Homo sapiens: one gene and its partner. Each later gene encodes a partner of the first gene's protein in a complex. Each region holds a gene or a part of one and is shown on either strand. Other genes may lie near its edges. A codon is read from its position in the direction of its gene.

Evidence for each region.
Region 2: the proteins of PLEKHM1 (region 1) and MAP1LC3C are in contact, whole or in part, in a crystal structure (PDB 5DPW), measured with the Homo sapiens proteins. Residues at the interface, in NP_055613.1 of Homo sapiens: Glu632, Asp633, Glu634, Trp635, Val636, Asn637, Val638, Gln639, Tyr640; in NP_001004343.1 of Homo sapiens: Phe13 (codon at 7,771), Arg16 (codon at 7,780), Lys17 (codon at 7,783), Glu25 (codon at 7,926), Ile29 (codon at 7,938), Phe33 (codon at 7,950), Lys36 (codon at 7,959), Pro38 (codon at 7,965), Asp54 (codon at 8,168), Lys55 (codon at 8,171), Thr56 (codon at 8,174), Lys57 (codon at 8,177), Phe58 (codon at 8,180), Leu59 (codon at 8,183), Val60 (codon at 8,186), Pro61 (codon at 8,189), Glu63 (codon at 8,195), Leu64 (codon at 8,198), Ile72 (codon at 8,222), Arg76 (codon at 10,362), Phe114 (codon at 10,476).

The regions. Positions count from the first base shown.
Region 1 is NC_000017.11:45,483,037-45,498,368, forward strand, and holds the start of PLEKHM1 (pleckstrin homology domain-containing family M member 1), read right to left. Parts: upstream 7,686-15,332; 5' UTR 7,616-7,685; exon of another isoform or gene 6,201-7,615; intron 4,827-6,200; exon of another isoform or gene 4,746-4,826; coding exon of another isoform or gene 4,692-4,745; intron 1-4,691. UniProt on the Homo sapiens protein: Acts as a multivalent adapter protein that regulates Rab7-dependent and HOPS complex-dependent fusion events in the endolysosomal system and couples autophagic and the endocytic trafficking pathways.
Region 2 is NC_000001.11:241,990,811-242,006,742, reverse strand, and holds MAP1LC3C (microtubule-associated protein 1 light chain 3 gamma), read left to right. Parts: upstream 1-7,644; 5' UTR 7,645-7,734; coding exon 7,735-7,792; intron 7,793-7,911; coding exon 7,912-7,967; intron 7,968-8,122; coding exon 8,123-8,229; intron 8,230-10,357; coding exon 10,358-10,580; 3' UTR 10,581-11,253; downstream 11,254-15,932.

The DNA of each region.
Region 1 (15,332 bases):
AAAAAGTACCACTGGAACGGCTTCAAAAGGGGAGGGCTCCCTTGCTACACTTCTGCTCCTCATTTGGGCTTCGAGGGTCTGGCTTGAGCAGCACAGACAGGGACGTGTCTAACCGGGATGACCATGAGGTCTCATCGCAGTTTGCCACTAACCAGGTAGGCATGCTCAGACCTCTCAGATGGAGAATGTGTAAAATGCCTGTCACGGGGCCTGATATGTACCTGTACCTGATATGTTGTACCTGGCATCTGTCATCCCAGTGGATGTGGCCACCTAAACCTACAGACCAAGAATGTCATCACCTAAATGAGTATGCAGGAAGAGCTGAAGTCAGTGAGTGGTTAAATCCCTCAGGGCTGCCAGCTTCCTCCTGGAAGTGGGTGGGGTGGGGTGGGGTGGGGTGGGGTGGGGCGGGTGGGGTGGGGACTTTAGCCTGAGCCTGAGGGGGCTGCTGACTGGCTTGGCCCCACCACAGCAACTTGGACAGACCTGGGCCAGGCAGGCACATTCACACGTAAACAAATCTCTAGCCAACTCCTGGCTGAGCATCAGGGGAAAGGGAAAGGTGATGTCTGTCTCAGCTCTCAATCACCGCACAAAGAAGTTAACAAAACCAAGAAAAGTTAAATGGGCTCAGTTCTCTTTACATATATTGCCTAATTTATGTTCCTCCTAAGGACCCTAGGAGTGCTGTTTTATTGTCTCCACCTGACAGATAAGGAAATGGCAGCTGACCCAGGTCAAGGAAGTTCCTGAGGTCCCAGGGCTGATAAGCGGCCTGACTCCACCACCAGCCCCCAGGAGGAAGCCAACCCCAGCCCTAGGAAAACCCGATTCCTGAGTGAGTGCTGTAAACCAAAAATAAAATTCTAAGCTCCCCAACTGCCTGAATGGGCCCCCCTTGGCCAAAGGGATTTCAAAAAAACTGAAAACTGAGTTCAGGCCATGACACGAAGTGGGGCGTGGGCCATGCCTCATCCTAGCCTCTCCCTTTTGGAGCTTAGACACAACTGACCAGCATTAACATTAAAACAGACTCCTAAGACTGACAGAACAGACTCTCAGCAATTAAGATACCAACTCCAACCTGACTGGTCTAACATCACATGGGAGATAACAGGCCCTAAGGAAATCAAAGTATCTTACCCCCAAGTATATTTTTGACATAGTTTGGAATGGCCCTGCAAAGCCATCTCTTGTTGGGAAAATTTATGTCCTGCAGAGATTCCCTTCCCTTTCTAGGCCTTTTCCTGATTTAGAGGAGATTTAACTAAGAGTCTGACACCTTAGAGACATTTACCATCTATTCTCTTGAAGGCTTCATCTACGTTACATGAACCTTGGCTTTCACAACCCACCTTATCTTAACCCCAAGCTTTTCTTCTGCTGACTTTTAACTCTTTAGGCAAAGTTTAACTTTTTCAGCCAATTGCCAATCAGGAAAATCTTTTAATCCACCTTACCCTGTCCCCACCAATGTATACCTTACATATATCAATTTATGTCTTTGCCTGTAACTTCTGCCTGTAACTTGGATAAAAATCAAGCTGTACCCCAATCACCTTGGGCACATGTTCTCAGGACCTCCCAGGACTATGTCACAGGTCATGGCCCTCACATTTGGCTCAGAATAAACCTCTTCGAATATTTAACAGAGTTTGGCTTTTTCATCAACAGTGCCATCACCTCAGAGCTAGGATTCCAGGGGTGGTCTGGGAAGACCCTTTCGCTGGGGGCCGGGAACAGGGGGTGCAGGGGAACATTAAGGCCAGTGTGGCAGGAAAGGTTTCCTGGACAGCCCTGGAGCAGCATGAGGTTTGGAAAGCAGACAGGCAGGCTGGCCCTAAATGGTGGAAGGTGCTCTGATTGGATCTCTGGCTTCTGGGGATAGCAGAGGGCAAACAGGACACAGGGAGTCAGGACCCAGAGCCAACCTCCCTAAGTCAGGTCCCTCAGGAGGAAGCAGGCATGTATGGAGGATGGTTCCTGCAGACCCAGTAACAGGCCGGGTGCTGCAGATGGCCAGAAGAGCCCTCAGTCCTGACTACAGCCCCATCTGACTGCCTCACCCTTCACCATAGTCTGCTCCCAGCTACCCAGGGATTCTCAGAGCCCTCCTCTGGAGACCAGTTCCACATTCTGGCCACGGGGTGACAGGAAAAGGGGGTTGTATGCTGCAGTGACTCTGCATCTAGGGTCACTTCCAGAAACAGGCCTGGTCTTGAGGTCAGGCTCCATCAAGGCTACCCTTTTGCAGCTCAGCAGGCCACGTCCAGCTTCTCTGGCTCCGAAACCCTGGGCTCCAATCCCAGTCCACAATTTCCAGTGGCCTGAGGCCCTCAGGCCCACCCTTCTAGAGAGAGCCCGAAGCCCCAAAGTTGCCCTTCCCTTAACCAGCTACAGGGCCGGGACCCTAAGGACTTAGACCCAATAATTTGAATTATAGCCCAGGCCCATTAAGACCTCATTAACTAATTAGCTGAGAGTGATAGAGTATTCACAGAGTATTCACTGGGAGGAGCAGGCCATTGGTAAGTGAGTGCTCTGGCCAAGTAACAGTATGCTAAGAAGACAAAATAGGCCAGGTGCCGTGGCCCACACCTGTAATCCCAGCACTTTGGGAGGCCGAGGCAGGAGGATCACTTGAGGTCAGGAGTTTGAGACCAGCCTGGCCAACATGGTGAAACCCTATCTCTAATTAAAAAAAAAAACAAAAATTAGCCAGGCATGGTGGCCCATGCCTGTAATACCAGCTACTGGTATTACCAGCTACCATACCGGCTGAGGCAGGAGAACCACTTGAACCCAGGAGGCGGAGGTTGCAGTGAGTCGAGATCATGCCACTGCACTCCAGCCGGGGCAGCAAAGCAAGAATAAATAAATAAATAAATAATTTATGGCATGGCGCCGTGGCTCACGCCTGTAATCCCAGCACTTTGGGAGGCCGAGGCCGGCGGATCACGAGGTCAGGAGATCGAGACCATCCTGGCTAACACGGTGAAACCCCGTCTCTACTAAAAATACAAAAAAATTAGCCGGGTGCAGTGGTGAGCGCCTGTAGTCCCAGCTACTCGGGAGGCTGAGGCAGGAGAATGGCGTGAACCTGGGAGGCGGAGCTTGCAGTGAGCCGAGATCCCGCCACTGCACTCCAGCCTAGGCGACAGAGAGAGACTCCGTCTCAAAAAAAAAAAGATAAAATAAAAAAATAATAATAATAATAATAATTTATGTCTCAAATAAATAAATAAATAATAAACTGAAGCTGGCTGGGCGCGGTGGCTCACGCCTGTAATCCCAGCACTTTGGGAGGCCGAGGCGGGTGGATCACGAGGTCAGGAGATCGAGACCATCCTGGCTAACACGGTGAAACCCCATCTCTACTAAAAATACAAAAAATTAGCCGGGCGGGCACCTGTAGTCCCAGCTACTTGGGAGGCTGAGGCAGGAGAATGGCGTGGACCCAGGAGGTGGAGCTTGCAGTGAGCCAAGATTGTGCCACTGCACCCCAGCTTGGGCAACAGAGCGAGACTCCATCTCAAAAAAAAAAATTAATAATAATAAACTGAAGCTAAGAGAGACAGGGCCAGACAAGAGAAGGGTCACTTGGCCTAAAACAGAGTCAGAAATGCCACAAAATGACTGACAAGAGCTCAGAGAAATCCAGCAGAAGAGCCACTTGAAAATTCACAAGACAGGACTGAGCCTCTGGGGTTCCAGCCACAATGCAGGACACCTCTGTTTGTAGGCAGCCATAGCACCCCACCTATCTGTATCTGTTCCATCATGCTCAGGGAGGCAGGGCTCAGATGGTCAGTGACATAAGAACTCACGGCGGGAATCAGAAGGAGGCTTTGTGTCTCTTGACTGTGGGGACAGTACTGCGTCACCCACCCTGGTGGCCCAGATTCTGAATCTACCATCCTATGGAACTGGTTCCACTTTCTGTCCTCAAAACGCTCTTCATTGACACAAAGAACCAAAGTGAAGAGAGGTGTGGCTTCAAGGAGACCTACCTGAAGGGAGTGAGGCAAAGCTGGGCAACAGTACCAAAGGGCTCTTGAACATGACGGGTGAAATCTTAGCAGGGGAAAGGTGACTGGTGCCATTTAGGAAGCCCCAAACCACACCAAGTCTACTGCCACCCTGTGTATTCATTCGCCTTCACATAGCTCTCCAGAGTGCAGAAAGCAAGCTTCTCTGATGTCCCTCTCTAACCTCATTTAATTCTCACAGCAATCCCGTGAGAGAGTGATTATCCCTGTTTTACAGAGGACAAAACTGAGGCTCAGTAGCAATGGGTCTCGGGTAAGGGACAGAACTCTCTGGTTTCTTCATCCCAACTCCTGCATCTTTCCCTGGACCAAAAGGCCTCAGGTCTTTGGCTCAAATTCAGACAAACTATTACTTCTTCTTTAGAGGTACTCGGAAGCTCCATTTCATCACAGAAGGTCTGAAACCAACAAGAAACAGTTCTGCCAATCAGGTTTATAGCCCCAACCAGCTGAGACCAGGTCCTACCAATGCTCCTAAAGTCTCAGAGCTATACTTTCTTAAATGTTCCAACATAGTTAGGAAGGAACAGTTCCGGTTGGTTTCCTGCATTATACTGCCTGGCCTTCTCTATATGTCCAATTTCACTTCCTCCAGAGATCAAGGAAGCAAAAAAAGAGAATGACTTGGATGAGACTTACGTTAAAAGAAGAAAGGGATAACCTGGTTCCACCACTCTCAAAACACTCCACCATCAGTGAACAGCAACCTCTTCTCTTGAGGGACTCCTCAGCCACTCCCCACGGCCTTCTCTCCACTGCCTGAATTGTGTAACTGGCTGTTCAGAGCCACAGCCTGGCTTTAAGCCATCCAACTGCTGTACCAATTGATGAGTCATGTTTTTTCAATTGGAAAAGAATGACAAAGTTATCCTCTGATTCAGAAAGGCAGCTGATCTTTCAGGCATGTGAGTGCTGACTGAGGAAACTGCACCTCTGTCCACCTGAGGAAAGCTGGATTTCTGTGATGGGTGGAGTGGTGGGGGTTGGAGCTTTGAAGCAATTAAATACCAGATGAAGGGTGAGAAACTTTTAGCTTGTGATTCCCAGACTCAGGGCTAGTGGATGAGGGCAGAATTGTGGAGTCAGTGAACACTAGCTATCTTTCTTTCCTCCCTCCTTCCTTCCATCCAGTATCACCCAGCTTTCCTGTATTCTTGTCCCATATCCCAGAGGATTCTAACAAGGACCAAACTCTGAATGAATGAAAACAGGACCGTTGCCTGACCCATTCACCATTGTATTTCTAGTACCTGGAACAGTGTTTGTCACACACTGGTGCTCAAAAAATAAGCTGTTGAATGAATTGATTAATAAAATAAAAACAAGGCACGGGGTAAGTACCTCCACTTCACACACTGTGGGAAGTTGGGGTATACAACTCTTAAGTGCTGGGGCAACTGTGGAGCTCCTGTCATTAAGCCAAGCTGCCAATAAGGCTGAAAACAACTTAAATATACTGCATATTAATGGGAGGACATTGAAGGTAAACAGCATTCACTTTTCAAAGGAATACGACTATAAGTGGCAAGCAGAGACAGTGTTCTTTGGGGCTCTTTAAAACTGCAATCAGCCAGGTGCGGCGGCTCACGCCCGTAATCCCAGCACTTTGGGAGGCCGAGGTGGGTGGATCACCTGAGGTCGGGAGTTGGAGACCAGCCTGATCAACACAGAGAAACCCCCATCTCTACTAAAAATACAAAACTAGCCGGGCATGGTGGTGTATGCCTGTAATCCCAGCTACTCGGGAGGCTGAGGCAGGAGAATCGCTTGAACCTGGGAGGCAGAGGTTGCGGTGAGCCGAGATCATGCCACTGCACTCCAGGCTGGGGAACAAGAGTAAACTCCGTCGAAAAAAAGAAAGAAAGAAAGAAAAAAGCTGCAATCAAATGGCCCACCCATCTGATGCCGGGTCCTCAGGATTCAGAGAAAATGTGTACCAAAAAGCCCCCAGGAAACTATAAATGCTGAGCATGGGACTTGGGTGCCTCTGGAATGTCCTTCTGCCTCAGCTACTCTGAGATAACATGGTTCCCTGTGTTCATGGAACCCAGATGGCCAAAAGTCAATGATCCAGCACTTAAAAGAAAAGAAAGCGATTCAAGAGCCTCTGTACCCACCTAGGCCTCAGCCTCCCCAGGACCTACTCACCTATACTCTTCACAACAGGTAACGTTGCCTCTGGCACCCATCATATCCCCTGAATTCAGCATCAGGACTGATCTGCCATCAGCTCTGGCAGGGAGAGGCCCTTACAAGTGCCAAGAAAAGGAACACGAACAATATTCTGTGACCACAGCCAACACCACACAGAACTTCCCAGAAGCTCTCCAGGGCGAGAACACCAACCAGAAGGAAGTGACAGCTTCCATCATTCTGTGCTAAGTGAGCTGAGTGAGTGGCCGTCTCTCACCTTCCAGATATTTGAATGATACCTACCATTCCAGCAGCCAGCACAAGTCATTTAATATGAATGCCAAAAACACAATCCCTGAGGACAGGTGCAGGAGACCAGATGCCAGGAAAAACCCCGGCCCCACCCAAGAGTTGGGGAGAGCCCACTGCTCCTCCACCCTTATTTACCACCTGAGCCCCTGCACCCGCCAATCATGCTGCTCAGTCTGTAACTGCGGGTCTGAGTGAGCACCTACATTTGGCTGTTGAGGGGCAGCTGGTGGAGTTGGCAGGCGACTCTGCACTAAGTTCTCAGGTTGAATGGGAGTTGGGTCGAGGGAAGCAATGGACGCAGAGTTGGGGTGAAGAGTTGCGGTGGGTCAGCGGGGGTGAAAGGACATGGAGATGTCATTTTTAACAAGATTGGGTGAGGGTGGTAGGAAAGGAGGCAGCAAGAGTTCGGGACAGTTTGGCAAAGACTTAGGGATGGGCTGTCCTCAGTACGGCAGGAGACGCAAAGGAAGGTATACAGTGGCTAGGAGACTAAGGACGAGAAGACACAGTTAAGACTTGGAATAAGGCTGAGATCGGAGTTATCCAGAAGAAAGCGGTGAGCTCAACAGGGCACCTACTTTGGGGGTGGGTCTTAGATGAGAGGGCGGAGGTAGAATGTTTGGGATGAGCAGATCTTGGGGAGCTAGACGGGGGATGGGGGTGACTGGGATAAGAAAGCTGAGCCAGAAAAGGGGAAACCTGAATGGTGGGTCTCGGGGAGGTAAGCGCGGAGCATCGGGATTACCAGAGGGGTGGGGAGAGAGGATGAGGTGTGTCAGGGCGGGGCGAAGGGACGTGGCCGAGATCGGTGTTGGAACTGGGGTAAAGTGGGGTCACGAGTGAAGCTGCATTTAAGCAAGACCGCTGGTGAGGGGATGCGGGCGCGGGCTGGGGGCTGGACAGACGGAGGGGACGGGGCCACAGCGGCGGTGCAGGGGGAAGGCTGGGTCGGAGAGGAGCGGGCGCGGGCTGGACAGGGCTGAGGGCCCTGAAGCCGGGCAGTCTCAGGGTAACCAGGGGCTGGGAATCGCGGAGGGAGCGGGAGGCCCACCGCCCGTTCGCGCCTCGGCCCTCCCACCACTCCGCCGCCCTCCTCGCATCTTGACCCCCTAACTCACCAAGCGGAGCGAGGAGCGAGGCGAGGGGCGCTCCCGGCCGCGGCAGCCCCTCAGCCTCCGAGCCGACGATGCGGTCTCTCGGCCACTGACAACAGGAAGCGGCGCCCCGGCCCCTGACGCCATCACGTTGGCTCGGCGCTCCGGCCCTGCCCCGGCCCGCGGTGCCAATCGCGCAGCCCGAAGGAGCCTTGGGGCGGGGCCAGCTGCTCCCGGAAGTCCCTGGGAGCTGAGCCCCGGGGCAGATGCGAGGTCTGGGAGGCTGGGGAACTGGGGGCGCCTGCAGGGCGCAGAGAGGCGAAGGCACCGGTGTCAGGGAGAACGCATCCGTTACCGCCCGCCTCCCGCAGGTCTGCGTCAAACTAGATCCTGGCTTCTGGGTTCCTGACCTCGTTTGGCCTCAGAACCATCTGTGCAACATTGGGGCTGTCACTTCGCCTCCCTCAGCTGAAGAGTTCCCACTTGTGAGTGGGACTAATAACGCCTGCCCTATCTTTGCCTCTCCGAGGGCAGCAGTGCAGCCCGTGGGGCGGAGCCCGGGCCCAAATTGGAGCCTCCGCCTTGCGCTTTCAGGATAAACATAGCTGTTTTGACCACACTTTATCCCAAGGGAACGCCTTGAGGTCCCCTTGGGCACTCTCCCGTGTGTAACTCGCCCATTAGCACCGCCTGGCTTGAAGCTTAGGGGTCTGGTTATTCTCTTCTAGCCCGTGTAGAGGATTTCTTTCTTCCTTTCTGCTTTTTTTTTGAGACAGGGTCTCACTCTGTCGCCCAGACTGGAGTGCTGTGGCACGATCACGGCTCACCACAGCTTTGACCTCACGGACTAAGTGGTTCTCCCACCTCAGCCTCCAAGCAGCTGGGACTACAGGCGTGCACCACCACGCCCAGCTAATTTTTTCTTTTTTCTTTTTTTTTTTTTTTTTGCGACGGAGTCTGGCTCTGTCGCCCAGGCTGGAGTGCAATGGCGCGATCTCGGCTCACTGCAAGCTCCGCCTCCTGGATTGACGCCATTCTCCTGCCTCAGCCTCCCGAGTAGCTGGGACTACAGGAGCCCGCCACCACGCCCGGCTAATTTTTTTATGTTTTTAGTAGAGATGGGGTTTCACCGTGTTAGCCAGGATGGTCTCGATCTCCTGACCTGGTGATCCACCCGCCTCGGCCTCCCAAAGTGCTGGGATCACAGGCGTGAGCCACCGCGCCCGGCCAATCTTTTCATTTTTAAAAAAATTTGTTTATTTTGTAGAGACAGGGGTCTCACTGTGTTACCTAACCTGGTCTCCAACTCCTGGCCTCAGGCGATCCTCCTGACTCGGCCTCCCAAAGTGCTGGGATTACAGGCATGAACCACCACACCTGGCCTGTATATCTTCTTTCTAACGCAAAAGTGACATTTCTCTTTCAGATGAACTCGGAACAAAATGTCATAAGTGGTGGCCACAGGTAGTGAAGAGCAGGGCAGGGAGTGTTGGCAGGGACCCATGCTCTGGACACTTTATACTTGCAGGCTTTGGTCAATTGGGAGCCTAGGGCCTGAGTGTGGATGAGGAGAGGTACTGCTACATGCCAGTCCTAAGTGGGCACAGGGGTTGGCTGGGGAACGGGCCAGTTCTTGGAAGCAAGCTTCACTGCCCTCGGCCTGGGCGTCCTGTGCTCTTTTGGCTTCTCTGGGTAGGAAGGTGTCCCTCTTATCTCTGCAAAGTTCAGAGTCCCACTGTCTGCTTTCAAGTATAAAACCAGCACTTGGGGGTATGACCCTGGACTGTATGAGGGCCGCCCTTTCAGTAATTCTCTCTCCAGGAGTGAGAACCTCCCCTTCTCAATTTTAGACTAGATGGGTCTGAGTGTGTTTACTGCAGTTAATGGTTGAGCAGGAAGATTAGAAATAAGGACATAGAGACAAACTATTCTCTCGGTGTTAAACTCATTTTAAACAAAGTGGAAAGTAAGGGATTTAGTAGGGAAATCCTTTCACCTTGGCAAAACGATAGTATACAACTGGCACAGCATAATCCTTGGTGGCTTGGCACAAGCATTCCCTGTCCCCCATCAAGCACATAATGTCCCTCAGTAATTCCACTGCATTTTTGTGCAGCGGCTGTGTGCTGGAGCTGTGGGGAACCCCTCGGTAATCTCTTGTCTGCTTTTTAGGAGCCCCTATCTCCTGGTCTTCTCTTACTTCCCAAGCTACCCTGCTTCTTTGAAAAGTCTTCAGGCTTGCCTACCTCTTCTCAGCTTGCTCTGCATGCCTTGGGGAAGCTGCATAAAGCATGGATCATGAAGGAGGGGGCGCAGAGGAGAGGGAAATGCATGTTTGCACAAATGGACCCTGAGCCCACCAGGCAGGCTCCAGATGGGGGGGAAAAAAAAAAAAAAAACCCTTACATTATCACGTGACTTGCGCAAGAAAAAAGGTACCTGCAAAGGGCCAAGGGACCAGAGAGGAGAACTTGAGAGGTATTCTGGAGGAGGCGACTTTTGATATGAGCTTTCTAGGTGAGTAAAGGGTATTGCAGCTGAAGGGACTGGCTGGTAAGTGGCCAGCACATAGGAATACAGGCTGAGCTCAGGGAAGGGTGCACCCAGAGGTGGGGAGGAAGGTGGGAAGTGAAAAAGGAGGCTGGGCACGGTGGGTCATGCCTGTAATCCCAGCACTTTGGGTGGCCGAAGCTGGTGGATCACTTGAGGTCAGGAGTTCGAGACCTGCCTGGCCAACATGGTGAAAGCCCATCTCTACTAAAAATACAAAAATTAGCCAGGTGTGGTGGTGTGTGTCTGTAGTCCCAGCTACTAAGGAGGCTGAGGTATGAGAATTGCTTGAACCCGGGAGGCGGAGATTGCAGTGAGCCAAGATAATGCCACTGCACTACAGCCTGGGCGACAGAGTGAGATCCTGTCTCAAAAAAAATTTTTTTTAAATAATAATAAAAATAAATAAAAATAAAAGGAAGTGAAAAAGGAAAGGGTAAGGGGAGAGGGCCAGAATGGAAGGGGAGCTGAAGACTGAGCAAGGCAAAGTTGGAGGCCAGTGCAGAAAGGGCTCAAACCATTTGCAAGGATGGTTCACATCCCACTGGTCTGTCAGCTTGGATTTAAAGCACTACCCAGCGTTATTCAAAGCCACACAGGAGAACTGTAGGCATCAGAATGCCCTGGGGACAGGTCCAAAATGCAGATTCCTAAGCCCCACACTAACCCTAAAGAGTCACTCTAGGATGAGGTCCAAGAATTTGGGCTTCACCCCACCTCTCCTGTCCCCTGCCCTCACCACTGAGGACCTAAAGGATAATGAAAGGGGGAAATCTGTGCCCTAAATAATCCCTTTTGGCAGTTACTTTCTGTTTTCAAAGTTCAAGTCTGTCCTCCGGGACTAACCTAGGAGATGAGGGATAAGGGAATTAACATTTATGGAAAATGGAAGAACATACATAGGCACCTGTGTTCACCTAATATTCCTTACCAGCCACCTGAAAGGTGGGTGCTGCCATTATCTCTATTGTATGGATGAGAAAATAGGCTTAAAAGAGGTTAAGTGGCCAGGTGCGGTGGCTCATGCCTGTAATCCCAGCACTTTGGGAGGCCGAGGTGGGTGGATCATGAGATCAAGAGATCCAGACCATCCTGGCCAACATGGTGAAACCCTGTCTCTACTAAAATACAAAGAATTAGCTGGGCGTGGTAGCACGCATCTGTAGTCCCAGCTACTTGGGAGGCTGAAGCAGGAGAATCGCTTGAACCCAGGAGGCAGAGGTTGCAGTGAACCGAGATCACGCCACTGCACTCCAGCCTGGTGACAGAGCGAGACTTCATCTCTTAAAAAAAAAAAAAAAAGAGGTTAAGTAACTTGCGGGGGGGCCACAGCCACAGAAGTAGTAAGTGCTAGAAGTAGGATTCTTACCTAGTTCTTTCTGATTCTAGTTTCAGCTTTGTTCAGTGGATTTTAGAGCCAGGGCTGTTTAGGTTTGAATCTCATCTCTATCCCATATTGTTTGCTGGGACTTCCTTAAAACAGTGTGGGGCCCAGGGCAACCCAATGAGTATGGGGCTAAGATAGCTGACAGCTGCCACCGAGTCAGCATTTTTCACAGGCCCGTTGAGATCGCACTGAAGACAGAAATTTCTAAATTGAATTTTATTGATGTTCAGGAAAGAGAAGTAAGTCACAACGCCCCTTCGCCCTCAGCCCCAAGCAGAGAGCCCAGAGTGTGTGACCTCAGGCAAGTGCCAAAACCTCTCTGAGCCTCAGTTCCTCATTGTAAATAGGGGCTAATGTCAGTTGATGTGAGGAGTAAATATCATGATATCCTGGCTGGGCACAGTGGCTCACGCCTGTAATCCCATAACTTTGGGAGGCTGAGGTGGGTGGATTACTTGAGGCCAGGAGTTCGAAACCAGCCTGGCCAACATGGTGAAACCCCATCTCTACCAAAGATACAAAAATTAGCCAGGCATGGTGGTTCATGCCTGTAGTCCCAGGTACTTGTGAGGCTGAGGCACAAGAATCGCTTGAACCTGGGAGGCTGAGGTTGCAGTGAGCTGAGATTGCGCCACTGCACTGCAGCCTACATGACAGAGTGAGACTCTGTTCCAAAACAACAACAACAAAAAAAAAAAAAAAAAAAGGAAAAGAAAAAAAGAAAAGAAAAAGATGATATCCTTAATGCAAGTTCTGGCCTGTAGTAAGTGCTCAAAGATGAACAGTTGTTACTATTCTAGTTGTGGCTAATTTTCACCCTGCCAATTGGGCAGGTCCTTGCCTTCCATTGCTCTTGTAAGCACTTGAATGAGAGCCTTTCTTGTCTGAACCCCAGATATATTCTTGCTTGGCATCTGATTGAAATAATAAAACTAGTGTTAATGCACCCTCCTCTCTGGACACTGTAATCACTGGTGTGCTCTTCAGTTCTGTTGTAGGAAGCGGTTTCTTTCCACTCTCTCTTTTTTAAAAAATTGATTAAAAAGTGTTGTTATACACACGGTTTACAATTCAATAAAATGAAACGGAATGGGGATGAAACATAACGAACAACAGCAGTTCATTGTCCCTATTGTTCCCACCCTTCTGGGGAGCAGGCTTTCAGCAGAATCTTCTGGTGCTTCTCCCCACATCTCCTGCACGTCTCATTGTTTGTATTTTATTATTTTTTTGAGACACAGTCTCACTCTGTCACCCAGGCTGGAGTGCAGTGGTGCCATCTTGGCTCACTGCAACCTCCCCCTCCTGGGTTCAAGCAATGCTCCTGCCTCAGCCTCCCTACTAGCTGGGATTACAGGCACCTGCCACCATGCCCAGCTAATTTGATATTTTTAGTAGACGCGGGGTTTCACCATGTTGTCAAGGCTGATCTCAAACTCCTGACCTCACGTGATCCACCTGCCTTGGCCTCCCAAAGTGCTGGGATTACAGGCGTGAGCCACCGCGCCCAGCTGTCTCATAGTTTTAGACACTGTCTGTTGCCTTCCTGGTAAACCTGGCAAGGACTTAGCTCTTTTACACCCCAGCCCTGTCCATTCTTGAGGTTTGGGTTTGCCACAATTTGTAGAAAATGAACAGTGTTTACAGAATTGTGACTATATAAATATTATTCACCACAGAGCTTAATAATGTGCTGTGAGGTCAGGCATGGTGGCTCACGCCTGTAATCCCAGCACTTCGGGAGGCCAAGGTGGGCGGATCACCTGAGGTCGGGAGTTCAAGACCAACCTGGCCAACATGGAGAAACCCCATCTCTACTAAAAATACAAAAATTAGCCGGTGTGGTGGTGCCCCCTGTAGTCTCAGCTACTTGGGAGGCTGAGGCAGAGAATCACTGGAACCTGGGAGGTGGAGGTTGCAGTGAGCCGAGATCATGCCACTGCACTCCAGCCTGGGCAACAGAGTGAGACTCTATCTCAAAATATAATAAAATAAAAATAAAATACACTCTGATGATGGCTGCTTCCCCCAAGGGTGCCTCAAGCTCTCTCCTTTTCTTTCAGTGCCATCTGCCATTATCGTGCCATCGTTCTCTTCCAGTGCTCTGGTGGAGCAGGTGGCGCCCAGGCCCACAGTGCCCTCTCCAAGTTCTGTCCTCCATGTGCTCAAGTTATCCCCTAAACTTGTCACATGTGGTCATCCTGGAACTTTGCTTAACTGCTTCCTGGGTTGGGGCCTTTATTTCCTGGCTCCCTTCTCTTCTTGCTTAATTTCCCCTCCCTTTGCTGCAGCACATACTCAGTTAAGAATCCCTTTCTAACATTAAAAAAAGAAAAAGAGAATAGTTCTTGGATCTCCTCATGATAGAAATTATATCTTTAGGCCGGGTGTGGTGGCTCACGTGTGTAATCCCAGCAGTTTGGGAGGCCGAGGCAGGTGGATCACTTGAGCTCAGGAGTTCAAAACCAGCGTGAGCAACATGGTAAAACCCTATCTCTACAAAAAGTACAAAAATTAGCCAGGTGTGGTTGCATGTACCTGCAATCCCAGCTACTCAGGAAGCTGAGGGAGGAGAATCTCTTGAACCCAGGAGGTGGAGGTTGCAATGAGCTCTGATCATGCCACTGCACTCCAGCCTGGGCGACAGAGTGAGACCCTGTCTCAAAAAAAACAAAATAAAGTTGTATCTTTAATATCCATTAACTGAAAAATAAAAATAAAAATAAGGACCAAAAATTACTATGAGGACACACATGCTTTTAAATGAATTTGTGTGTTATTAACCACAGTAACATCTATGAACTTGTGAAAAACTGTTACTGGTTTAGGCTTAAGGGTTTGCCCAGTCTAGCTTCAATGTTCAATGGGTGGGCACGGTGGCTCACACTTTGGGAGGTGGCCAAGGCAGGCAGATCGCTTAGTCCAGGAGTTGGAGACCAGCCTGAGCCACATAGTGAAACCCTATCTCTACAAAAAATTTAAAAATTAGCTGTGCGCGGTCACGCGCACCTGTAGTCCCAGATATTGGAGGGCAGTGGGGGTTGGCGCTGAGGTGGGAGGATCACTTGAGGCCAGAAGGTCAAGGCTGCAGTGAGCCGAGGCTGAGTCACTGCACTCCAGCCTGGGTGGCACAGCAAAACTCTGTCAAAAAAACAAAACAAAACAAAACAGACAAACAAGAACCAAAGTTGGATGCAGTGGCTCATATCTGTAATCCCAACAACTCGGAAGGCTCAGGCAGGAGGATTGCTTGAGGCCAGGAGTTCAAGGCCAGCCTGGGCAACATGCTGAGACCCTTGCCTCTGAAAAAATTAAATATTAATAAAAACAAACCCTAGTAGCTTCAGTCTTTGATTCTCCATCCCTCATTTCATCCCTTTGTCTTCTGGTAATAGAATTTCCTTCTTGTTTTTCTTTTGGGATGAGCCACCTTCGCTCCCTGGGATTCTGCTGGGATTGAGTTACCGCCTTCCGGGCTCAAGCGATCCTCCCACCTCAGCCTCCCAAGTCGCTAAGACCATAGGTGCATGCCACCATGCCTGGCTAATGTTTTGTATTTTCTGTAGAGCCGGCGTTTTGCCCTGTTGCCCAGGAGTTTTTCCTTTAATGTTCTCCTGCTACTTACTAATTCACTTTGTCACCCTGTGAGCTCATAAGAGCAGAGAGATAGCAACAGGAGCTAAAAAAACTCTAAGCTGTGAAAAAATATTAAATATGAAATCATGATAGCTATTAGCTTAATTTGTTTTAGGCAAATTGCAAAGTAATTTTTTGGGAATCAGTGTCCCACTGCAGTGATTCCAT
Region 2 (15,932 bases), on another chromosome or scaffold:
TCCCGAGTAGCTGGGACCACAGGCACATGCCCCCATGCCTGCCTAATTTTAAAATTTTTTTGTAGAGACAGGGTCTTGCTATGTTGCCCAGGCTGGTCTTGAACTCCTGGGCTCAAGCAATCCTTCTGCCTTGGCTTCCCAAAGTGCTGGGATTATAGGCGTTAGCCACCACGCCCAGCCAACCTCTTATTTTAGGTGTACACATTTCACTTCCATGTTGTTAGAGTTCCCAAACTTGTTTCTCCCTATATCAGAAAATGTAGGGAGAAAGGATGAATGACAGCAGTCACAGGAAGCAAACTTGATCTATCCCAGTCACTCCCTGAGCCCCAGACACCCACACTTGCTAAGAGGCAATCTTATTTTTAATCACATTGCAAAAGCTGAGTCACCTTAGGAAACTCCTCAGGAATGATTAAAATCATCCCAGAAAAGCATAGAGAACAAGGAGAGAATTGTGGGGGAACCAGGGCAAAGCCAACATCAAGAGTCAGAAAGGCCACTCGTGGCTCTCAAATCTATACATAGTAAGGGCTGGCTGTAGCGATGGTTGCAAGGACTGGTGATCCTTTCAGAACTTCATCTTAAAGCTCCATTTGCCTATCAAGTCTGTTGCATTTTCACAAGATTGCCTACTACAGATAAGAATGCTGACAAGTTTTGTGACCTTTTTTTTTTTTTTTTTTGAGATGGAGTCTGCTCTGTCACTCAGGCTGGAATGCAATGGCACGATCTCGGCTCACTGCAACCTCCACCTGCCGCATTCAAGCAATTCTCTTGCCTCAGCCTCCCAAGTAGCTGGGACTACAGGCATGTGCCACCATGCCTGGCTAATTTTTTGTATTTTCAGTAAAGAAGGGGTTTCACCATGCTGGGCAGGCTGGTTTCAAACTCCTGACCTCATGATCCACCTGCCTCAGCCTCCCAAAGTGTGCTGGGATTACAGGAGTGAGCCACCACTCCCGGCCTTTTTTTTTTTTGGAAGACATTTCGCTCTTGTTGCCCAGGCTGGAGTGCAATGGTATGATCTCGGCTCACCGCAACCTCCACCTCCCAGGTTCAAGCAATTCTCCTGCCTCAGCCTTCTGAGCAGCTGGGATTACAGGCATGCACCACCACGCCCGGCTAATTTTTGTATTTTTTGTAGAGATGGGTTTTCTCCATGTTGGTCAGGCTGGTCTCAAACTCCTGACCTCAGGTGATCCACCCACCTTAGCCTCCCAAAGTGCTGGGGTTACAGGCGTGAGCCACAGCACCTGGCCAGAAATGAGGACATATCTTAGTCACACATATCAGTTGTCCAATCTTGAGACTGGGTTGTCTTACAGGCCCTAAGGAGAAGTGGTCCTGCAAAGGAGGGAGAGGTAGCAGAAGAGGCCAAGAATAAAGGTCAGAGGACAGGGAGAAGAATCCAAAGAATGTGGTGTCTTGAAATCAGAGAGTTTTCAGAATGAGAAAAGAAAATGTTGGCTGGGTGTGGTGGCTCATGCCTATAAGTAATCCCAACACTTTGAGAGGCCAAGGTGGGAGGATCCCTTGAGGCCAGGAGGTCAAAACAAGCCTAGGAAACATAGCAAGGCCTTTTCTCTACAAAAAGTAAAAAAATTAAGCAAGTGTGGTGGTGCATGCCTGTGGTTCCAGTTACTTGGAAGGCTGAGGTAGAAGGATAGCTTGAGCCCAGGAGGTCGAGGCTGCAATGAGCCATGATTATGCCAAGGCACTCCAGTCTGGGCAACAGAGCGAGATCCTGTTACAAAAAAAAAGACAAAAGGAAAAAAGAAAATGGGCTGGATGCAGTGGCTCAGGCCTGTAATCCCAGTACTTTGGGAGGCCAAGGCAGGAGGATCACTCTCAAGCCCAGGAGTTCGAGACCAGCCTGGGCAACATAGTGAGACCCTTGTCTTAAAAAAAATTTTTTTTGAAAAGGAGAAAATGGCCAATTCCAAATGTTGAAGAATCGAAGATGAAATAATAAGATAACGACTAAAAAGAGTGCTTGTGCGTGTGATTGCTGACCTGCCAGGAGCACTGCATGAGTGTTGGGACAGACTCCAGATGGTAGGAGTTGAAGGATTGAAGAGGTGGTGAGCTAAGTGGAAAGAGCTGGGACAGCCCTTTCAAAAGGTTCCAGGAAGTACAAGCAGAGTGGGCTAGGCTCTGAGCTTCACGAGGCATGAGCGATGTGAGAGAACTCCCATTTATTGAGCTCCAACTGTGTCATCTCATACACATGAGTTTATCACATAGATTTCCTCATTCAATCATCTCACAACTCTATGAGACAACTGAAAACATATCCATTCTGCTAACAAATAATATGAATTTCAAAGAAGTTTGCTTTCTTTTTTGTGTGTGTTTTATTATTTATTTTTGAAATGGTGTCTTGCTCTGTTGCCCAGGCTGGAGTACAGTGGTGCGATCTCGGCTCACTGAAACCTCTGCCTCCTGGGTTCAAGGGATTCTTTTGCCTCAGCCTCCCAAGTAGCTGGGATTACAGGCCCCCACCACCATGCCGGCTAATTTTTATATTTTTAGTAAAGACAGGGTTTCACCTTGTTGGCCAGGCTGGCCTTGGACTCCTGATCTTAAGTGATCCACCCAATTCAGCCTCCCAAGTAGCTGGGATTACAGGCCCCCACCACCATGCCGGCTAATTTTTGTATTTTTAGTAAAGACGGGGTTTCACCTTGTTGGCCAGGCTGGCCTTGGACTCCTGATCTTCAGTGATCCACCCACCTCAGCCTCCCAAAGTGCTGGGATTATAGGCGTGAGACACCAAGCCAACCTATTAGCATTTGTAGTAGAGACAGGGGTCTCACTTTGTTGCCCAGATCAGTCTCAAACTCCTGTCTCAAAGCAATCTTCTCAGTTCAGCCTCCCAAAGTGCTGGGATTACAGGCATGAGCCACTGCACCCGGCCAGTTTTTTGTTTACTAAAATATTAGTAGACTGGACATGGTGGCCCATGCCTGTAATCCCAGCACTTTGGGAGGCTTAGGCAGGATTGCTTGAGCCCAGGAGTATGAGGCCAGCCTAGGCAACATAGGGAGACTCCATCTCTACAAATAATTTAAAAAATTAGCCAGGCACGGTGGTGTGAGCCTATGGTCTCAGCTACTTGGGAGGCTGAGCCAAGAGGATCACCTGAGCCCAGAAGGTTGATGCTGCAGTGAGCTGTGATCATTCCACTGCACTCCAGGCTGGGCAACAGAGTGAGACCCTGTCTCAAAAACACAAAACAAAACAAAAAAGAAATTAAAATATTGATAGACAGACCTCCTGATCCAGCGAGGGCACTCTTGCTCCAGCTGTTCGCCACAGGACTGTTCTTATTTCCTTCCCCATGGTCCATGTAGCATCCATAGTGTGTGGTTTTGGTCACCTCCCAGCCACCTAGGTCTCACTCCACTGCCAGAGGAGCACCAGCCAGGAGCACGATGCCATCAGACGACACACCAGACACTGCTCCCCTCAAAAGATGGCTTTCAACCCCCAAAAAAAGAAAAGAAAAAAAAACTGGCCGGGCACCATGGCTCATGCCTGTAAACCCAGCACTTTGGGAGGCCGAGGCTGGTGGATCACCTGAGGTCGGGAGTTCAAGACCAGCCTACCAACATGGAGAAACCCCGTCTCTACTAAAAATACAAAATTAGCTGGGCGTGGTGGCGCATGCCTGTAATACCAGCTACTTGGGAGGCTGAGGCAAGTGAATCGCTTGAACCTGGAAGGCGGAGGTTGCGGTGAACCGAGATCGTGCCATTGCACTCCAGCCTGGGCAACAAGAGCAAAACTCCGTCTCCCTCCGCCCCCTCCAAAAAAAAAAAAAGAAAAGAAAAGAAAAGGAAAAAACGATCCAGCCCATTCCTCTGCCTGAAAGATGATGCATTCTGGAAGTGTTGCTGCATTTTGTTTTTTCCCAGTGCTTCATTCTATTACCTCCTTCATCTCCATTCCATCTGAGAGGCAAGCCTGCTTGGACTAGATAGCAATCTCCATGCCTCAGCCCAGAAAGTCAAACGCAAGGCAGTTAAGAAGCATCTCAAAGCCCTTATAATCATTGACCAAACACCACAGCTGGGATTGATTTTCTCCTGGCCCCAACTGAGCACTGTTTCCTTCTACCTCTGCCTTCAGCATTCAGACCTCAATGCACATAAGGATTCTTCGGATTATAAAGATTTGGGGGAACCATGGCTTGGGGAAGTGACGGGAAGATACATACACTGAGGAACAGTGGCAGGCACTATGCTAGCTGCTTTACAGAAACCAGTTCATTTAAGCCTCACATAACTATTCTGAGTTACAGATTACCATAACCATTAAAAGCCGTATTTAGTAAAGTGAAGCCATGTATCCAAGATCAGAAATTAAGGTGCATAGGTGGGAGGGCCAGGCTTGGAACCAACTTTGCCTGGTCTTAGAGTCTGGGCTGCCCCTGGAGATTGGCCAATCTGGGTTGGATCCCGGCGCAGTTTGCATTCTGGCTGAATGATCTAGACCACAGCAGTGTGAGCATCCTGCCTGCCCTTCCCACATGCAAGGCAACTGGGAAAGTTTACATGAGATTGCAGATTTGAAAGGTACTTTAGCACAGAGCACTGCACACTTGCTCCTTACTATTCACACCTGACGGGATGCCTTCTTTTTTAAGACAGAGAAAGAGGACGAGGCCACTTATCTCTTCAATGATGCCATCATTTAATCTCTTGACATCTATTTCTTATCATTGAGCTAAAGCCCCAAGAGTCAGGCCCTTCAATTCACCAGCAAATGTACTATCTCCTTCTCCTTTGTCACATTTTGTTCATTTTAATACTCTTCACTGCTGAATGACTACAGAAAATCATGGCATACACTGCTAACAATAAAGGAAATGCAAGCCTTCTGGCCATGCAGTGTCTGAAGGGCTACCTGGATGGGCGTAAGTACCAGGAAGCAACTCCTGGCCGTGGGAACTGGAAGAGCTGTGTCTTGCCCTTCCTAGCCCTTTTGAGTCCAGGCAAGGGATTAATTTCTCAGGCCCTGTGATATTGAGAAATACATGTTTAGTTTTCATTCAATTTCCTGGAATACAAGTTCTAAAAATTCTTGGAATTTTCTTTTTTGTTTGTTTCTGTTTTTTGTTTTTGAGACGAAGTCTCACTCTGTTGCCCAGGCTGGAGTGCAGTGGTGCAATCTCGGCTCACTTCAACCTCCACCTCCTGGGTTCAAGTGATTCTCCTACCTCAGGATTCTGAGTAGCTGGGATTACAGGTACCCACCACCATGCCTGGCAAATTATTGTATTTATAGTGAAGACGGGGGTTTCACCATGATGGCCAAGTGGATCTTGAACTCCTGACCTCAGGTGATCTGCCCACCTCCGCCTCCTAAAGTACTGGGATTACAGGTGTGAGCCACTGCACCTGGTGGAATCCTTGGAATTTTCAAAGTGGTAAGTGTCTTTTTTTATTTTTATTTTTTTCTGAGGTGGAGTCTCGCTCCGTTGCCCAGGCTGGAGTGCAGTGGCACAATCTCAGCTTACTGCAAGCTCCACCTCCCAGGTTCAAGCCATTCTCCTACCTCAGTCTCCCTAGTAGCTGGGATTACAGGCACCCACCACAACGCCCAGCTAATTTTTTTGTATTTTAGTAGAGACAGGGTTTCATGATGTTGGCCAAGCTGGTCTCAAACTCCTGACCTCAAGTGATCCGCCCACCTTGGTCTCCCAAAGTGCTGGGATTACAGGCATGAGCCACCATGCCCGGCAATAAGTGTCTTTTTTTAGTTCATCAGTTGACTGACGGCTAGCAGTCCCTGGGTAGCTTTGGATGGGGGCTGGTCGCCAGAAAGACAAAGGTGAGATTAGAGGGTTGGAATTTTTAGCCCCACCTCCAGCCTCTGGGGAGGGTAGAGGGGTTGAAAGTTAAATTGATTACCAGTGGCCAATGGTTTAATCAATCTTGCTTACATAATGAAGCCTCCGTAAAAACCCAAAAGGCCTAGGTTCTGCTAGCTGAACACGTGGAGGTTCCTGGAGGGTGGTATGCCCTTCCCCCATACCTCGCTATGCATCTCTTCATCTGTACCCTTTGTGATATCCTCTGTAATAAGCCGGTAAAAGTGTTTCCCTGAGTTCTGTGAGTCATTCTAGCCAATTAATGAAACCCAAGGCGGGGGCTGTGGGAAGCCTGACTTATGTCCCATAGATCAGAAGCACAGGGAAAACAAGCTAGGGGCTGGGCGCAGTGGCTCACGCATGAGATCCCAGCTCTTTGGGAGGCCAAGGCAGGAGGATCACAAGGTCAGGAGTTTCAGACCAGCCTAGCCAACATGGCGAAACCCCCTCTCTACTAAAAACACACAAATTAGCCAGGCATGGTGTCATGTGCCTGTAATCCCAGCTACTCGGGAGAAATCGCTTGAACTCAGGAGGCAGAGATTGCAGTGAGCTGAGATCGTGCCACTACATTCCAGCCTGGGCAACAGAGCAAGACTCTGTTTCAAACAAGCAAAAAAACAACAAACACAACTTGGGGCTTGCAATCGGCATTGAAAGTGGGGGACAGTCTTGTGGGACAGAGCCCTCAGCCCGATCTGATGCTGTCTCCAGGTAGACAGTGTCAGAGTTGGATTGGAGGACACCTAGCTGGTGTCCACTGTAGAAGTGATTGCTCGGTGTATGGGGAACCCCCACCCACCCACACACACACACACACATCTAGTGTCAAAAGTGATCTGTGTTGTGAGAATATAGGAGAAATGGAGTTTGGTTTCCCCTATGTATGACCAGAGACCCAGTTTCTTAACTCTAAAAGCAAGATCTTGGGGACAATTGTCCTTCCTTCCTTCTTTTATCCCAGAGAAAACTAAGTGACAGAATATACTGGAGTGTAGTACTTGGACTTCCTTGTAACAACTCTGGGTTTTTTTTGTTTTGTTTTGTTTTGTTTTGAGATGAAGTTTCGCTCTTGTTGCCGAGGCTGGAGTGCAATGGTGTGACCTGAGCTCACTACAACCTCCGCATCCTGGGTTCAAGCGATTCTCTTGCCTCAGCCTCCTGAGTAGGTGGGATTACAGGTGCCAGCCACCACGTCCGGCTAATTTTTGTATTTTTAGTAGAGATGGGGTTTCAGCATGTTGGCCAGGTGATCCACCCGCCTCGGCCTCCCACGTGCTGGGATTACAGGCGTGGGCCACTGCACCCAGTGTACAGCTCTAGGTTTTAATCCATACCGCTTCTCTTACTTGCTGTGTGCCCTCGAGCAAATCACTTCACCTTTCTTAGTATAGGTTTCCTTCTGTGATAAAGGGCATGGACCATTGTGAGAACTACACAGCACACTTCAGGCTGAGGTGGATCCAGCTTGGACCCCCCCTTGCTACTGAAGGGCAAAAACATCCCAGCACAAGGCAGTTTTACCTCTCCACAGTCCGCTGCCCAGCCAATGATTTTATTACAAACCCTAATTTCTTTTGCAAAGAAACATCTTGAACTGGTCATGAACAAAGTGGCTTTCTCTGACCAGCAAGCAGGTGGCGATTCCATTTCCATCAGAACTGACCTCCTGCTGCCCAGGGAGGGGGAGTGGGGAGAGGGGAGGGAGAGGAGAGGCCTGATGTCACTCAGCCCTACATAAGGGCCTCCTTCAGGCTCCTGCAGGCAGTTTGGAAGCAGCTGGAGGAATGAGTTAGGTTCCCGGTTGCGGGACAGTTTTTTTTTCTTTTTTAAAACAGACACAGCTACTGAGTGCAATGCCGCCTCCACAGAAAATCCCAAGCGTCAGACCCTTCAAGCAGAGGAAAAGCTTGGGTAAATTTCTTGGGGTAGCTTTCTGGGTTATCTAAAGAGAGGAGCGGATCTGGCCTTCTCTTGATCTTTGCTTCTTTTCTTGATCTTTGCTTCTTCTCTTGTGCTTGAAATATTCACAGCAATCAGACAAGAGGAAGTTGCTGGAATCCGGGCAAAGTTCCCCAACAAAATCCCGGTAAGACACCACTGGACTTCCGCTGGGGGGCGTGGGGGTGGGGTTCCGATCCTGTTCTCTGAAAAACCAAGAGCAGCCAACAGCTTCCCTCTGTCTGTTCCAAGTTCCTAACACTCACGCTGAGTCACATTCTTAAGGACTGACACTCTTGACAGGTGGTAGTGGAGCGCTACCCCAGGGAGACGTTCCTGCCCCCGCTGGACAAAACCAAGTTCCTGGTCCCGCAGGAGCTGACCATGACCCAGTTCCTCAGCATCATCCGGTAGGTGGCGCAGAGCGTGCCCCGGAGGAAGGTGCGCTGGGTGCGCCGGGGCTGTTGGGCTTTCTTCGTTTGGCAGTTTTATTTTGGGGATGGGGGCACGTCAGGGGAAGAGAGGAAAGAGATTTTTTTGAAGTCACCTTTTAGATTCACTAGTACCCTGAAAAGATGCTCTTAGAATTACTCTATTTTAAACCCCGGGCGGAGTGGCTCATGCCTGTAATCCCAGCACTCTGGGAGGCTGAGGCAGGTGGATCGCAGAGGTCAGGAGTTTGAGACCAGCCTGGCCAACGTGGTGAAACCCTGTCTCTACTAAAAATACAAAAATTAGCTAGGCGTGGTGGCGGGTGCCTGTAATCCTAGCTACTTGGGAGGCTGAGGCAGGAGAATCGCTTGAACCTGGGAGGCGGAGGTTACAGTGAGCCGAGACTGTTCCACTGCACTCCTGGGCAACAAGAGTGAAACTCTGTCTCAAAAAAAAAAAAAAAAAAAAAAGAATTACTCTATTTTAAACAGGTAAGGAGAATCCCTCAGACAACGACAACAACAAAAAAGACCTGCCAACATTTCTAAGAATTTCCTAAAGTAGTTAGTCTTGGCTCTCAAGCTAGGCCGGGAGATCCTTTCTTTCAGATCTTGTGTGAAACCGAGTCTGCGCGTCCGTTGCAGAGACCAGCACCTTTTCCAAGTGTATGTGTGCCTAGGGGTGGGGACTTCTCCCCAAAGGAAACGTTCCCTGCTCAGAACACTGAGAGAGAAAAGCATCCCCCAAACACACTCCTCCCTTGGTTAAGCCAGAGGTACAGCAAAGAACAGGCAGCTATTCTTAAAGCATAAAGGACATCACTTGACACATGGATTCAGTAAAAAATGATTTGGGAGTAAAGTAAATATACCCGATGAGTAAGTTTTCAACAGGGTTGAAAAGTGCTTGGAAGCTGCATCGCTGTTGCAGCCTGTTTTTTTGAGAACACACGATGAATGAGTGTCTTTTTATTTTGCTTTATTTAGCTCTGTCGCCTAGGCTGGAGTGCAGTGGTGTGAACCTAGTTCACTGCAGCCTTGGCCTTCTGGGCTCAGGCGATCCTCCCATCTCAGCCTCCTGAGTAGCTGGGACTACAGGAAAGCACCACCGTGCCCGGCTAATTTTAAAAATGTTCTGTAGAGATGGGGGTCTCACGATGTTGCCCAGGCCTCTTTTTATTTTGTTTTACTGAGTTAAGAGCATTCTGATTTCCTCTCTCTAGGCAAACTTACATGTTAAAGTTAGTTCAGTGTGAATGGAAGATGGCCAAGGGAGAATGAAAGTTAGGATTAGGGCCAGGCGCAGTGGCTCACACTGTAATCCCAGCACTTTGGGAAGCCAAGGCAGGGCAGATTACCTGAGGTCAGGAGTTCAAGAGCAGCCTGGCCAACATGGCAAAACCCCGTCTCTACTAAAAATACAAAAATTACCCAGGTGTGGTGTTGCGTGCCTGTCATCCCAGCTACTTGGGAGGTTGAGGCAGGGGAATCAAAAAAAAAAAGTGAAATATCAGCGAGACTGTGCATCACCTTTGTACTTCTAGGGAAATAGCTTTAATTTCTTTTCTTTTTTTTTTTTTTTTGAGACGCAGTCTTGCTCTGTCACCAGGCTGGAGTACAGTGGCGCAATTTCGGCTCACTGCAACCTCCGCCTCCTGGTTCTCCTGCCTCAGCCTCCCGAGTAGCTGGGACTACAGGTTCACGCCACCACACCCAGCTAATTTTTGTATTTTTAGTACAGACCAGGTTTCACCATGTTGGCCAGGATGGCCTCGATTTCTTGACCTCGTGAGCTGCCTGCCTCAGCTTCCCAAAGTGCTGGGATTAGAGGTGTGAGCCACTGCATCCAGCCCAATAGCTTTAATTTCATAGCAAATGGAAGTTATTTGCTTAGCATTTTTGTGTTGTCATGTTTCCTCAACCTGTTTGTGTTGTCATATTTCATCCATGGAATGGCCTCACCCTTTTGACCCAAATGGGAAGCCTTGTAGTTCCTAAATCTCAGGGAAGAAGAAGGGAGCAATTCAGTCTTCTTGAGTGTCATGAGGCTGCAGATCCCTGGGCTGTCTCGCAGGCCATACCCTCACCACCCTCCTGCCCATCCCAGGAGCCGCATGGTCCTGAGAGCCACGGAAGCCTTTTACTTGCTGGTGAACAACAAGAGCCTGGTCAGCATGAGCGCAACCATGGCAGAGATCTACAGAGACTACAAGGATGAGGATGGCTTCGTGTACATGACCTACGCCTCCCAGGAGACATTTGGCTGCCTGGAGTCAGCAGCCCCCAGGGATGGGAGCAGCCTTGAGGACAGACCCTGCAATCCTCTCTAGCCCATGTCGGGAAGGATGTGTGCTCTGACAGACGTGTCAGATGCTGGCAGAAGGGATTGGTTTTCTCCTGTGTATACAGTGGAGGAGTCTGAGAAGCAGGGATGCCTGGGGTGATCAGCTCCAACCAGTGGCAGCAGAGTGGTGGCTCTTCCTAGTTTAGTTTTTGTGCTCCGTGTTCTTGTGTCCTTCTAAGAAAAATGTGGGCTGCTCTTGAAAGTTATATAATTATCATTTTTTTTTTTTTGAAACAGGGTCTTGCTCTATTGCCTAGGCTGGAGCACAGTGGCATGATCTTGGCTCACTGCAACCTCCGCCTCCTGGGTTCAAGTGATTCTTCTGCCTCCACCCCCCGAGTGGCTGGTATTACAAGCACATGCCACCACACCAGGCTAATTTTTGTATTTTTAGTAGAGACGGGGTTTCACCATGTTGGCCAGGCTGGTCTCGAACTCCTGACCTCAGGTGATCCACCCACCTCGGCCTCCCAAAGTGCTGGGATTACAGGCGTGAGCCACTGCATCCAGCCATATAACCGTATTCTAAATAAGAAATGGTTGGCTTGTGTGATGGTTTTGTGTAATGAGCTAGAGATAATATTTTAAGTGTCTTCTGTGGTATATGTGGGAGGGCCATTAAGGAGTGGGTTTCACTCCCTGCATGTGGGCAGGTGTCCCATCTAGGGCTCGGTACTAGAGAATCTCTGGCCTGTAGGCTGTCTCTGTGGAACCCAGTGAAGCCAGCGTGAACAATGGTAAGCTCATCTGGAGGTGCTCTTATCTGTGTCATTAGAGAGATTATTCGATTTCCCCAGCATTCACTCTATTTAGTTATTTTCTGTCATTCTCTTTTTGTCTTTCTATACCATACATATTTATGCCAAAGCTGTAACTTCTCAACATGAAGTCATTTAAACCATGTGCATGTTTACTATGTGCCAAGCTGTATTCTAAAATAAATATTCTTTATTTTAAAGGAGCTTTATTCTTTGGCTTCTTATCACAACTCTCTATGGCTAACTACTGTTACAGTTAACCCACACAATGGGTGGGTTTGATCGCTTGGTGGGTGACGGTCCAATGACTACTCCCAAGGAGGATTTAAAAAGGGGATTTTATTAATTCTAACACGTAAGGAGGACACTGGGGATAGTTCCCAAAGCAGTGCCTCCCTGAACAAAAGTGAATGCAGGGCATTTATTGGGCAGAGGTGGAGTCAAGGAGTACAGGCGCAGTCACCGGCCATGCTTCCACATATGTTGCCTGTGTATAAAATAGTGAATAAGCTTCTCCCTAGGAGGAGATTTTTTTTCCCCCATTAATGAGCTTTCTATTATTATCTTTTTTTTTTTTTTTTTGAGACAGAGTCTCGCTCTGTCACCCAGGCTGCAGTGCAGTGGTGCTATCTCAGCTCACTGCAACCTCCGCCTCCTGGCTTCAAGCGATTCTCCTGCCTCAGCTTCCCCAGTAGCTGGGATTACAGGCATGCGCCACCACGCCCAGCTAATTTTGTATTTTTTGTAGAGTTTTTGTATTTTTAGTAGAGTTTCTCCATGTTGGTCAGGCTGGTCTCGAACTCCTGACCTCGGGTGATCTGCCCACCTCGGCCTCCCAAAGTGCTAGGATTACAGGCATGAGCCACTGCACCCGGGTTTTTTTTTTTTTTTTTTAATCGTAGGTTTCTTACTGGTCCTGCTTCCATGAGTGGCTGTGACCAGGGGAAAAGGAAGAGGAACCTGTCGGCACAGGGAGGGGTCATCTTCACAACATTCCATTTAAACACAGAACTAGACAAGCACAGAGTCACTATTGTGGTTAGAAGTTGGCAGCATGGGGCCGGGCGCAGTGGCTCATCCCTGTAATCCTAGCGCTTTGGGAGGCTGAGGTGGGCAGATTGCCTGAACTCAGGAGTTCAAGACCAGCCTGGGCAACACGGTGAAACCCCATCTCTACTTAAATACAAAAAATTAGCCGGGCATGACAGTGCACACCTGTAGTCCCAGCTACTGGGGAGGCTGAAGCAGGAAAATTGCTTGAACCCAGGAGGTGGAGGTTGCAGTGAGCTGTGATCACGTCACTGCACTCCAGCCTGGGCAACAGAGTGAGACTCTGTCTCAAAAAAAAAAAAAAAAAAAAAAAATAGTTGGCAGCATGGGAAGGGGAAGGAACAGGTGGGGAGTGCGGGTGTTGTTAAAAAAAATACAGTCTCCCTCACAACTCGGGTGCCTGGGGGGAACTTGATCTGCTTCAACCCGAGAGGAATCAGAAGATCCAAAGCAGTCTGGGAAGGCCAGAACCGTCAGGGATGGAGGGAGAAGGAAAATCCACGGTGGGAGGTCTGTTTGGCAACTGGGCTGAAGGGATTGCCCTCCCCCTACTGGGGTCCCTCCAGCCCCTCCGGTCTGGTAGGAAGGGGGCAGCCTGCAACCCCTGAGGGCAGAGGTGGGGCTGCCAGATGCTCCAGGCAGGGAGCCAGAAAGGGCTCACAAAGGCTTGCCCTCCAGGGGGATGAAGGCACTGCCCCCCACCTTCTCTGCCAGGGTGCAGCGGTCCTTGACCTCCTCGTAGCAGTTTGCTTGTAATTCTTGCTTGATCCCTGTCAGCTTCTTCTTGATGGCATTTTTGGAGCTGGCATAGATCATTTTGCTCGTAAGGGGTGCCCATTCAGTGGCCCAGAAGATAAACACCAGGTCCTCCTTCTTGCTCTCCTTGGTCTCATAGATTGTGTCGTAGAGGGCACAGTGGCAGTTCTTATCTGGCAGCATCTTGACAAAGGCGGTGTAGGGGTCATGGATGGTCTGGCCCACGTCACCCACCAGGATCTCATTGCCTTCCCCCAGGATGATGTTCTTGTCCTCACTCAGGCAGAAGAGCACCGTCTTCTGTGCCTCTTCACCTTCTCTGGCGTCAAAGACTTACACACCTTCATGTCGTTGAACACCTTGATGACACCATCAGAGATGACTGAACCTTTTTTTTGTTTGTTTTTGAGATAGGGTCTCACTCTGTCTCCCAGGCTGGAGTGCAGTAGTGCAATCTCGGCTCACTGCAACCTCCACCTCCCGGCTCAAGCGATTCTCCTGACTCAGCCTCCAGAGTAGCTGGGACTATGGAGGTGTGCACCACCATGCCCAGTCAATTTTTTAAATTTTTTGTTGATACGGAGTCTCACTATGTTACCCAGGCTGGTCTCAAACTCCTAGGCTCAAGTGATCCACCCATCTTAGCCTCCTAAAGTGCTAGGATTACAGGCATGAGTCACCGCACAGGCCAGGGAGGGGATTTTTAGTGTGGTAATGAAGAGAGTTCTCCAAAGTTCAGCTCCAACTCAGGCATCTCTGGATCCAGCTGGTTTTTGTGTTTTCCTGGGGTTGAGCTTCTTCCTGGTACTTTTGGAAACAAGAACTTAAGGTGCAGCAGGTCACAAGTGGATATGTTTTCACAGTGCTTGCCCAACAAACTAGCGACCCTGGATTCTATTACTGTCATTTTACAGATAAGGAAACTGAGGCCTAGAAAGATCAAGAATATTTTCCATTTTCACATAACATAGTCTCATCAGGACTTCAGGTTGGGGAGCCACATTTACAAGCCATGCTGCTAGCTTTCTGCTGGGCTCCCTACCTAAGTTGAAGTGACTTTACTTGACAAGGACGGGAAACTTGAGCTACAGTGTTGAGTGACACTAACACAACCTACAGAGGGGACAGGAGGTACAGTAGAGCTCCATGAATGCATTAACCATAGGGTATTTCAAGGCCGGGCGTTGTCACTCACACCTGTAATCCCAGCATTTTGGGAGGCCAAGGCAGGTGGATTGCTTGAGCTCAGGAGTTTGAGACCAGCCTGAGCAACATGGCAAAACCCCGTTTCTACAAAAAATACAAACATTAGCTGGATGGTGGTGTGCACACCTGTAGTTCCAGCTACATGGCTGAGGCAGGAGGATCGCTTGAGCCTAAGAGACAGAGGTTGTGGTAAACTGAGATCTCGCCACTGCGCTCCAGCCTGGGTGACAAAATGAGACCCTGTCTCAAAAACAAAACATAGGGTGTTTCATTCATCAACAGTGCAACAAGAACAAGTGCTTGGAGAGTATGGTCACAGGAGATACTGCAGCCTCAAATTCCTGGGTTTGTGAACTGGGTTTTGAAGTGTGGATGAGAGTTTATTTAGGAAGGAGTTTTATTGATTTTCAGCAAACATTTATTGAGCATTTACTGACTATCTACTAGCACTATTTTGGGTCCTGAAAATACCTCATTGAACAAGGTAGACAAGGTCCTGGCCCTCATGGAGCCCAGTTTAATGCTAGCAAGGGAAGGAAGATAGCACTCAGATATTTATAAGTACAATAAAAAAGAAGAAAAAAACTCAGTGATTGGCAGATGGAATGCATTTTCCAGGTGATCAGAGGGAGAATAATTTTCACTTGGGCCAGAATGATGGAACGGAGCCAGTGGTGGAGACGGAACACACCAGGCAGAGGAAGGCATGATTGAGAAAAGGGTCCTACTGTCTAAGAGTTTTACAAGCAGGATTCCAGGGTGGCTGCAGCCAGTGACAGGGAGAAAGAACTAGGCAGGTCTTCGGGGCCCTGTAAATTTTGTTAAGGTATTTGGACTTGTATAAAAGACAAATGATGGAAAGAGGAAGCATTCTAATGGGAGAGAGAGAGTTTGTTTTGTTTCGTTTTGTTTTTATTGAGGCAGAGTCTTGCTTGCTCTGTCAACCAGGCTGGAGTGCAGTGGCATAATCTTGGCTCACTGCAACCTCTACCTCCCAGGTTCAAGCTATTCTCATGCCTCAACCTCCCGAGTAGCTGGAATTACAAATGTGTACCACCACACCTGGCTGATTTTTGTATTTTTAGTAGAGATGGGGTTTAACCATGTTGTCCAGGCTGGTCTTGAACTCCTGGCTTCAAGGGATTCACCCGTCTCAGCCTCCCAGAGTGCTGGGATTATAGGGCATAAGCCACCGTGCCCCGCTGAGAGAGAGCATTTGTTCAAGAAGCTGGAACTCAGAGAAGATGTGAGCTCCCTAAAGTCCCTCAAAAGTGCTGGGCCTGGCAGATCTCCTGGGCTCACTCCTTCCGGGGCCTGCTGTTTCCTCCTCTGGGCTGCTTTCCCCACTCCCAGGTGGCTGCTCACCCTCTCTCCTGCCTGTGGCTGTCCTTGCCCTCCCTGGCTTGTCTGCTGTAGTCAGTTCCTCTAATATGTCCTTCAAGTCATCTGTGCCATATGCCAACTAAAAACCCTGACTCCTAGGTTCCTTCTCCAGACATACTCTTACTGCTTAGCCTGGTTCAATGAGTATTCTTCCCAAATAAATCTACTTTCTGGAGTGATTTTTT